2 separate regions of the Homo sapiens genome follow, and region 1 is linked to region 2. Evidence: fine-mapped expression QTL. A gene starts in region 2. The other region holds a variant in brackets. All regions are shown on one strand. Distances are from middle to middle. Region 1 overlaps RBM6 (RNA binding motif protein 6). Region 2 holds the start of RBM6 (RNA binding motif protein 6).

Region 1 (4,264 bases), 120 kb before region 2:
GGCAACTTTTAATGAAGGACTGATTGGAACAGGAATCAGAATAGATGTCAGTTCTGGCATAAACTTCAGAAATTCAAATCCTCTTCTTTTAGGTTGCAATTATCATCAATCAGATTCAGTTTACAAAGTCCCTTGTGACTTTTGAGCATGAAAAATCTAAGAAATACCAATGACTTTCATTATCTTCACCTTACTTCCATAGAAAAAGGCCCCGCAACTAAAAATTTAAGCCACAGGAATCTATAAATACTTTGAGGAAAAAGAGGAAATGTTTTATCATCAAATATAAAACCATCTGTGGCTGGACAAAATAAATCAGAAAGTTCACTAAAATCATGAAGGATTCAGTACTCAGATTCTTCACAAGCGAGTAAGTTGGAAACAGTAAATGACACAAGAAAAAAATGAACCTAGAAAACCAGACGGGATCCTAACTTTTGAGGGCTGTCACCTGACCTGAATGAACAATAAACCCAAAGGAGAGAGCAAGAGGGATTATGATATCAGGTAGCACACAAGAATTCAAATGATCAAGAAGTCCCTCAAATTTTTTTTTTTTTTTTTTGAGACAGAGTCTCGCTCTGTCACCCAGGCTGAAGTGCAGTGGCGCGATCTCGGCTCACTGCAAGCTCCGCCTCCGGAGTTCACGCCATTCTCCTGCCTCAGCCTCCCGAGTAGCTGCGACTACAGGCGCCTGCCACCACGCCCAGCTAATTTTTCTGTATTTTTTAGTAGAGACAGGGTTTCACCGTGTTAGCCAGGATGGTCTTGATTTCCTGACCTCGTGATCCACCCACCTCGGCCTCCCAAAGTGCTGGGATTACAGGCGTAAGCCACCAGGCCCGGCCCCCAGTCAAACCTTCTTGAAGGTTCTTTAGCCATCTGTCTCTAGGCCAATCCAAGGTGGAGGAAACTCACCGCATGGGAGTCGAGGTCAATAAAGCCATAGGTATGCCCCATAGGGCCTGTTCTGTTCTTGATGATACGGACGTTGGCAGTAGTAAGGCGGACATAGGGCTCCAGCACTTCCACTATCACCTCAGGTGGTGTGGAACGATAGATACGCTTTAGCATGATAGCTGAATCAACCATAAATGGGAGAAGGGCAACACAAGGGAGAGAAAGATAAATTTTTGAAGTCCCAAGAATCTGACTGTCATTTTTTACTATAGATGCTACTAGCAAGGCTGGTTCTGTAAAAAAATGCTAAACAAATAAATACTGCATACTTTTCTTCACCAATACTTAGAAATCTAAAATCATGCCTTACTGCATTCATATAGCAATTTACTATTTGAAGGGCATAGATTCCTTTAAGCAGTACAGGAAGGTCCACAGACAGCAATGGCCTCTGTCATCAGGTCATGCACAGATCTCTCAGGGTACTGGAAAGCAGATAGCTCCCGGACATAACATTGGCCATCTATGCTCCATTGTGATGATCACAGTCTGGTATGTGCCCTGACAAACTACTTACTTTTGCTCTCTCCATCCTGGCGTGTCTCTCCAGACCATGACTCCCTCTCTCGGTCTCTTCGGAAAGTTGGCCCTTCCCTTCGAGAAGGAGGCAGATACCTTTCTGCTTCTCTCTTTTGATGTCCTAAGCGTGACTCTTGGCCTTCTTCCCTCTTCCTGGGTTCAGGTTCCTTATCAGCTGGTCTTAGGGGCTGGTTGGGCTGTTTTTCCAATGGTGCTGGTATGGATGTTTTCTGAGGCTGAGGGTAGGTTATTAATTCTTGCTTGGCCTCTGTCACTAGTGGAACAGAAACAAAGAGAATCTCTAGAAAGCTTTATCAAAAAAAAA[A/G]AAAAAGAAAAAACACTGCTACTGTAATTTCTCCTTACCTGCCAGCAAATACTCATACTGGAATGCCTTTTTTTTTTTTTTTTTTTTTTGAGACGGAGTTTTGCTCTTGTTGCCCAGCTGAAGTGCAATGGCATGATCTTGGCTCACTGCAACCTCTGCCTCCCGGGTTCAAGCGATTCTCCTGCCTCAGCCTTCAGAGTAGCTGGGATCACAGGTGCCCACCACCACGCCCAGGTAATTTTTTGTATTTTTAGTAGAAACGAGGTTTCACCATGTTGGCCAGGCTGGTCTCGAACTCCTGACCTCAGGTGATCCACTTGCCTCGGCCTCCCAGAGTGCTGGGATTACAGGTGTGAGCAAACACGCCCGGCCTGGAATGCTTTTAATATTATCTCAGAAATATCTAATAAAAAGTCCTCTGACAGTTCCTGACAAAATATTTTAAGTGAAGCTGAGACAGGACATGAAATAGTTCACAGAAGAAACTATCCAAGCATTTAAAAAATGTAATCTTATGAAATCTCTATATCACCTACTAAACATTTAAATATAACAAATCCTTCATGACACCTTGAACCTGACTATCATAATCAATGATAACAACACATCTGGGGACAAAATTACCGAAGATATGGCCCTTACTTAAGGTTTAGTAGAAACACATATCCCAAACACACATCTAGAAGCCTTGCTTCTTCCAGTGTTACAGTGCTCAAACAGCTACTCATATCCTGTAAGACCACAGGCCCTCCTCCAGTGAAGCTAGGAACAGACCCTATCTGCACGTAGCTCCTTTATATGCAAATAAACATAATGGGCAGACGTCCTTCAAAATATAAATGATTTATTTCAAATGTCCTACTACAGCAGGATAATTTGTCTTTATAGTTTGTTTTATAATTAGGGGCACATTCTTGTAACTAATTCATTCTTGGAGGGTTCACTGGAATCCATGTGGCTCAAAAAGAGGTATTATATGAGAGCAATATAGAGATTACATAATAGCAGTGACAGGTTTCCAGATTAAAGCTGTCTCATCTTAGTGGTATGGTGCCCAGTGGTTTTCATACACTATCTATTCATGGCCGGGAGCGGTGGCTCACGCCTGTAATCCCAGCACATTGGGAGACTGAGGCGGGCAGATCACGAGGTCAGGAGATCGAGACCATCCTGGCTAACACAGTGAAACCCTGTCTCTACTGAAAATACAAAAAATTAGCTGGGCACGGTGGCGGGTGCCTGTAATCCCAGCTACTTGGGAGGCTGAGGCAGGAGAATGGCGTGAACCTGGGAGGCAGAGCTTGCAGTGAGCCGAGATTGCGCCACTGCACTTCAGCCTGGGTGACAGAGCAAGACTCCGTCTCAAAAAAAAAAAGAAAAAAAACAAAAAACTATCTATTCATTTGCTGGAATAGCTTTGAAAAAAAGTGTTTCTTGTGGGGGGAAAAAAACACAACTTTGCCTAACCTGAAGTGACCTAACAAGCAAAAATCTCAGTTGTTCATCCTCCTTCCCACATTTTGGTTTGGTTTCTAGAACATACACAGCCTTCCCCTAAAGATTTTCAGAACACCTGCCTTTCAGTCTTCACCAGAGTAAAATCTCCACAAGAGGACAAAAGCCCACCTAAGAAACTCCTTGTAGGCACATTAAACTCTAACCTTGCAACAAACAGAAGGCTACCTGAATCCCTGCACTGAACTATATTTTATGGTCATGCTGTGGCTTTCCTTAAGGGATGACTACAGGACTGTTGTTATGGATGCATGTGTCTGACTCTTCGAAGTTGCCTACCTGAAATTTCTCTAAAGAAATTTACATTAAAGATAAGTGCTTGAGAAGCTGGTAGTTTTATTCCTCTAAAATAATAAAATGTTCCCCACATCCTGATTATTTTCTCCTATTTATGTTTTTACTGTTATTTTAACAAATGTTTTTCTCTTGAAAATCCTGAAATGCTTACAGAATGTAAAAGAGAAAACAATAGAGCAAATGATTCCCAATAACTTCAAAGAAGTAGGAGTGGGAGAAAGGTTTGCCACACAGACTGATGTCATAAAGACTCTTTTTCAACCTAACATCCTTAATCCTTAAATGTATTCCAAATAACAATATACTGACCTCTGCTCAGCTGCCCACTTAGCCACTTTAGCCTAGGAGCCCACAACCCTATCTCTTTCCTCTGGTGAAAATAAGATCTGAAATCATTTACTAACAGGTTACGTTAAGTTGGGCACCAAACTGCAATTTTTTTTTTCTCACTCTGTTGCCTAGGCTGGAGTGCAGTGGCGAGATCTCAGCTCACTGCAACCTCTGACTCCTGGGTTCAAGCGATTCTAGTGTCTCAGCCTCCCAAGGAGCTGGGATTCCAAGCATGTGCCACCACACCTGTGGCTAATTTTTGTAATTTTAGTAGAGACAGGGTTTCGGCATGTTGGTCAGGCTGGTCTTGAACTCCTG
Region 2 (4,264 bases):
AGTACCTGGGACTACAGGCGCCCACCACCACGCACGGCTCATTTTTTGTATTTTTAGTAGAGATGGGGTTTCACCGTGTTAGCCAGGATGGTCTCGATCTCCTGACCTCGTGATCCGCCCACCTCGGCGTCCCAAAGTGCTGGGATTACAGGCGTGAGCCACCGTGCCTGGCTGAATTGTATACTTAACAATGGTTTAAAGAGCAAATTTTGTTAAAATATACATAAACATACATAAAAATATATATTTACCACAATTTATTTAATTGATTTTTTTTTTTTTGAGACAGTCTTGTTCTGTGGCCCAGGTTGGAGTGCAGTGGCACTATCTCCCCTTACTACAACCTCTACCTCCCCGGCTCAAGCGATTTTTCCATCTCAGCCTCCTGAGTAGTTAGGGCTAACAGGAGCATGCCACCACGCCTGGCTAATTTTTTTTTTTTGTATTTTTTGTAGAGACAGGGTTTTGCGATGTTGCCCAGGCTCACAATTTGTTTTAGAAATACTATAACAGGGCCGGGCACGGTGGCTCACGCCTGTAATCCCAGCACTTTGGGAGGCCAAGGCAGGTGGATCACCTGAGGTCAGTAGTTCAAGACCAGCCTGGCCAACATAGCGAAACTCCGCCTCTACTAAAAAAATACAAAAAATTAGCTGGGCATAAGGCGAAACGCTGCCTCTACTATGTTGGTTTTTGTTGAGTTTTGCGGGTTTTTTTTTTTTTTTTTTTTTTTTTTTTTTGAGACAGAGTTTCACTCTTGTGGCCCAGGCTGGAGTGCAATGGAGCAATCTCAGCTCACCGCAACCTCCGCCTCCCAGGTTCAAGCGATTCTCCTGCCTCAGCCTCCCAAGTAGCTGGGATTACAGGCATGTGCCACCATGCCCGGCTAATTTTGTACTTTTAGTAGAGACGCGGTTTCTCCATGTTAGTCAGGCTGGTCTCGAACTCCCCACCTCAGCCTCCCAAAGTGCTGGGATTACAGGTGTGAGCCACCAGGCTCGGCCTGGTAATAGAATTCTATAAGGAAAGGTGCTACAACTATCCAGAGAGACCTGGGACCTGTCCTGCAGGTTAGGTATCTAGTTAGATGCTAGTTTCTGAGACAAGGTTCAAATTCAACTTTTGTGTTTCACCAAAATGGTAACATATTATTTAGTTACTTTCTTCACTGCCAGTCCTACCATCACGCACCAGCTCTTGACACCTCTCGTTAGAGACCTCACAAATTCAGTAATGGTGACATATTTAAATCATTCACGCTGGTGGCATTTCTCAATAGGAAGGTGGAAACTAGCAAGCCGAGGGCACAATCCAGGGTTCAGAAAATGAACCAGGTGACCATGTCTGCATGTCTACTGAACTCCTTCACTTAAATCCGGCTACTCTGACCTTCACAAGCAAACCTGGAATATGCAAAAAATACAATTACGCTCACGGTTTATGTACCCTACGAAACAGGGCCCTTCCTTCAAAAAAAAAAAAAAAAAAAAGGCATTCCCAAAGTTGAACCCATTCGCCTAACGTCAATTCTAAAATAAAGAGAAAAACATCTATTTACACCGCTAATGGAATCTAAAGCGTGAATACGATAAAACATCCTTCTCCTTCATTGCCTAACGGGCGCAGAACCCACCAGACCACTCTCCCGCTTCCAGGTTCTACCGCCCCGACGACCGGGCTCGGAGCTCTTGTGCCCTCCGGTCCAGCGGAGCCTCCCTTGTGTCTGTCCAAGTCTGAGGACGAGGCTACGTGCTAAGCACAAGAGCTCCCTTCCTAGTGATGCCACAGAATTGGATCTGAAACAGGAAAACCGCAAGAACAGCCCGCTTACAGCTCCGAAGAGTAGGAGCACAGAGCCGCAACCACGCGCCGGCCCCAGCCTCACAGCTGGCCGCTCCGCGGCGGGACCGGTAATCTACTGCCGCGCCGGGCCCCGCCCCAGGCCCGCGACGGTTCCGGGGCGTTCCTGCCACGGGCGGCGCCTCCCTCATCTCACCGTTGCTTGGTCTTCTTCCCGAGCGAGGCCGCAGCCGCCCCGCGACACTGAAGCCACAGCTTTCAGGCTGCGCGGGCCTGCGATGTCTAGAGCGGGCCTGTCTGCTGGCTATTCCCTGGCAGGCTCTGGCACGCCTCCCCTCCAGTCCCGGGCCCTTACCTAGGCGGCGAAGCCTCCACGGCCCGCTCCTCCTTCTCCTCAGCCTCCGCCACCGACCCAGCGCCGCGGACACCGGAACTTCCTCCGCGCGGGGCCACTGCTACCACAAAGGCGCCGCGCCGCTGCCTTCAGCGCTCGGCCCGCTGGGAGATGAAGTACAGCTGCCGGTCCCGCAGACTCTTACTCCCGCCGTGCCCCGCGCGCAGGGGACTTGCCTTCTGGGGTGGGTCGTAAGAGCACGCTGTCCATCGCCATCCAATAAGAAGGCGCGCTTACCCGCCCTACTCCGCGTGACCTGCTGGGAGTTGTGGTTTGGCCTCTGCCCTGTGACACCTGGTCCTCTTGTGCTTTCCTCTCAGTTGATTGAGGCTTACAGTTTTTTGGTGGCTTGACTTTCCTGAGGTTTGCTCCCTGCCAGCAGCTCGGGTACGGCCCTGGCCTGCCTAGCTCGAGGCCTCCTTATTGTCCGTTAGTGTGAGAGAAATGGAAGGGAGCTTCTTCGGGAGTAAGTTTAAGCCATCTCCAGCTGGTTGGCGGGGCGCGGTGGCTCACGCCTGTAATCCCAGCACTTTGGTAGGCCGCGGCGAGTGGACCACCTGAGGTCAGGAGTTCTAGACCAGCCTGGCCAACATGGTGAAACCCCATCTCTACCAAAAATACAAAAATTACCCGGGCTTGGTGGCAGGTGCCTGTAATCCCAGCTACTCGGGAGGCTGAGGCAGGAGAATCACTTAAACCCGGGAGGCAGAGGCAGAGGTTGCAGTGAGCCGACACTGTGCCACTGCACTCCAGCCTGGACAATAGAGCAAGACTCCACCTCAGAAAAAAAGAAAGAAAGAAAAAGGCCGGGCGCAGTGGCTCATGCTTGTAATCCTAGCACTTTGGGAGGCCGAGGTGGGTGGATCACGAGGTCAGGAGTTCAAGACCAGCCTGGCCAAGATAGTGAAACCCCATCGCTACTAAAAATACAAAAAGTAGCCAGGCGTGGTGGCGCATGCCTGTAATCCCAGCTACTCAGGAGGCTGAGGCAGAGAATTGCTTGAACCCGGGAAGCACAGGTTGCAGTGAGCCGAGATCGCGCCACTGCACTGTTGCCTGGCAACAGCGCAAGACTCCGTCTCAAAAGAAAGAAAGAAAGAAAGAAGTTGGGCGCAGTGGCTCACGACTGTAATCCCAGCACTGTGGGAGGCCGAGGCGGGTGGATCACGAGGTCAGGAGATCAAGACCATCCTGGCTAACACGATGAAACCCTGTCTCTACTAAAAACACAAAAAATTAGTGGAGCGTGGTGGCGGGCACCTGTAGTCCCAGCTACTCAGGAGGCTGAGGCAGGAGAATGACGTGAACCCGGGAGGCGGAGCTTGCAGTGAGTCGAGATAGCGCCACTGCACTCCAGCCTAGGCGACAGAGGGAGACTGTCGCAAAAAAAAAAAAAAATTACCCGGGCTTGGTGGCAGGCGCCTGTAATCCCAGCTACTCGGGAGGCTGAGGCAGGAGAATCACTTAAACCCGGGAGGCAGAGATTGCAGTGAGCCTAGACTGTGTCACTGCACTCCAGCCTGGACAATAGAGCAAGACTCCGTCTCAGAAAAAAGGAAAGAAAGAAAGAGGCCGGGCGCAGTGCCTCACGCTTGTAATCCTAGCACTTTGGGAGGCCGAGGCGGGTGGATCACGAGGTCAGGAGTTCAAGACCAGTCTGGCCAAGATGGTGAAACCCCGTCTCTACTAAAAATACAAAAATTACCCGGGCGTGGTGGCGCATGCCTGTAATCTCAGCTACTCAGGAGGCTGAGGCAGAGAATTGCTTGAACCCGGGAGGCGGATGTTGCCGTGAGCCGAGATCGCGCCACTGCACTCCAGCCTCACAACAGAGCAAGACTCCGTCTCAAAAAAGAAAAAGAAAGAGGTTGGGCGCAGTGGCTCACGCTTGTAATCCCAGCACTTTGGGAGGCCGCGGCGGGCGGATCACGAAGTCAGGAGATCGAGACCATCCTGGCTAACACGGTGAAACCCTGTCTCTACTAAAAATACAAAAAATTAGCCGAGCGTGGCGGCAGCCGCCTGTAGTCCCAGCTACTGGGGAGGCTGAGGCAGGAGAGTGGCATGAAC

Evidence for each region. PIP is the estimated chance that this variant, and not a neighbour inherited with it, causes the effect. A credible set is the group of variants that fine-mapping cannot tell apart.
Region 1: its variant is the best candidate, but not a certain one, in a credible set for the expression of RBM6 in blood mononuclear cells (TOPMed, PIP 0.68).

What each region holds. Positions count from the first base shown.
Region 1 is chr3:50,055,217-50,059,480 of GRCh38, reverse strand. It overlaps RBM6 (RNA binding motif protein 6), which reads right to left. Exons shown (of 21, transcript NM_005777.3): 9 at 1,478-1,753; 10 at 919-1,079. Among named protein-coding and RNA genes, the nearest start is that of RBM5, 32 kb to the left of the region's middle. The variant A/G (reference allele first, on the strand shown) is at 1,805.
Region 2 is chr3:49,938,117-49,942,380 of GRCh38, reverse strand. It overlaps RBM6 (RNA binding motif protein 6), which reads right to left and starts at 2,231. Exons shown (of 21, transcript NM_005777.3): 1 at 2,156-2,231. RefSeq lists a silencer at 1,801-2,000 and enhancers at 1,557-2,078, 2,141-2,200, 2,231-2,280, 2,311-2,370, 2,079-2,601.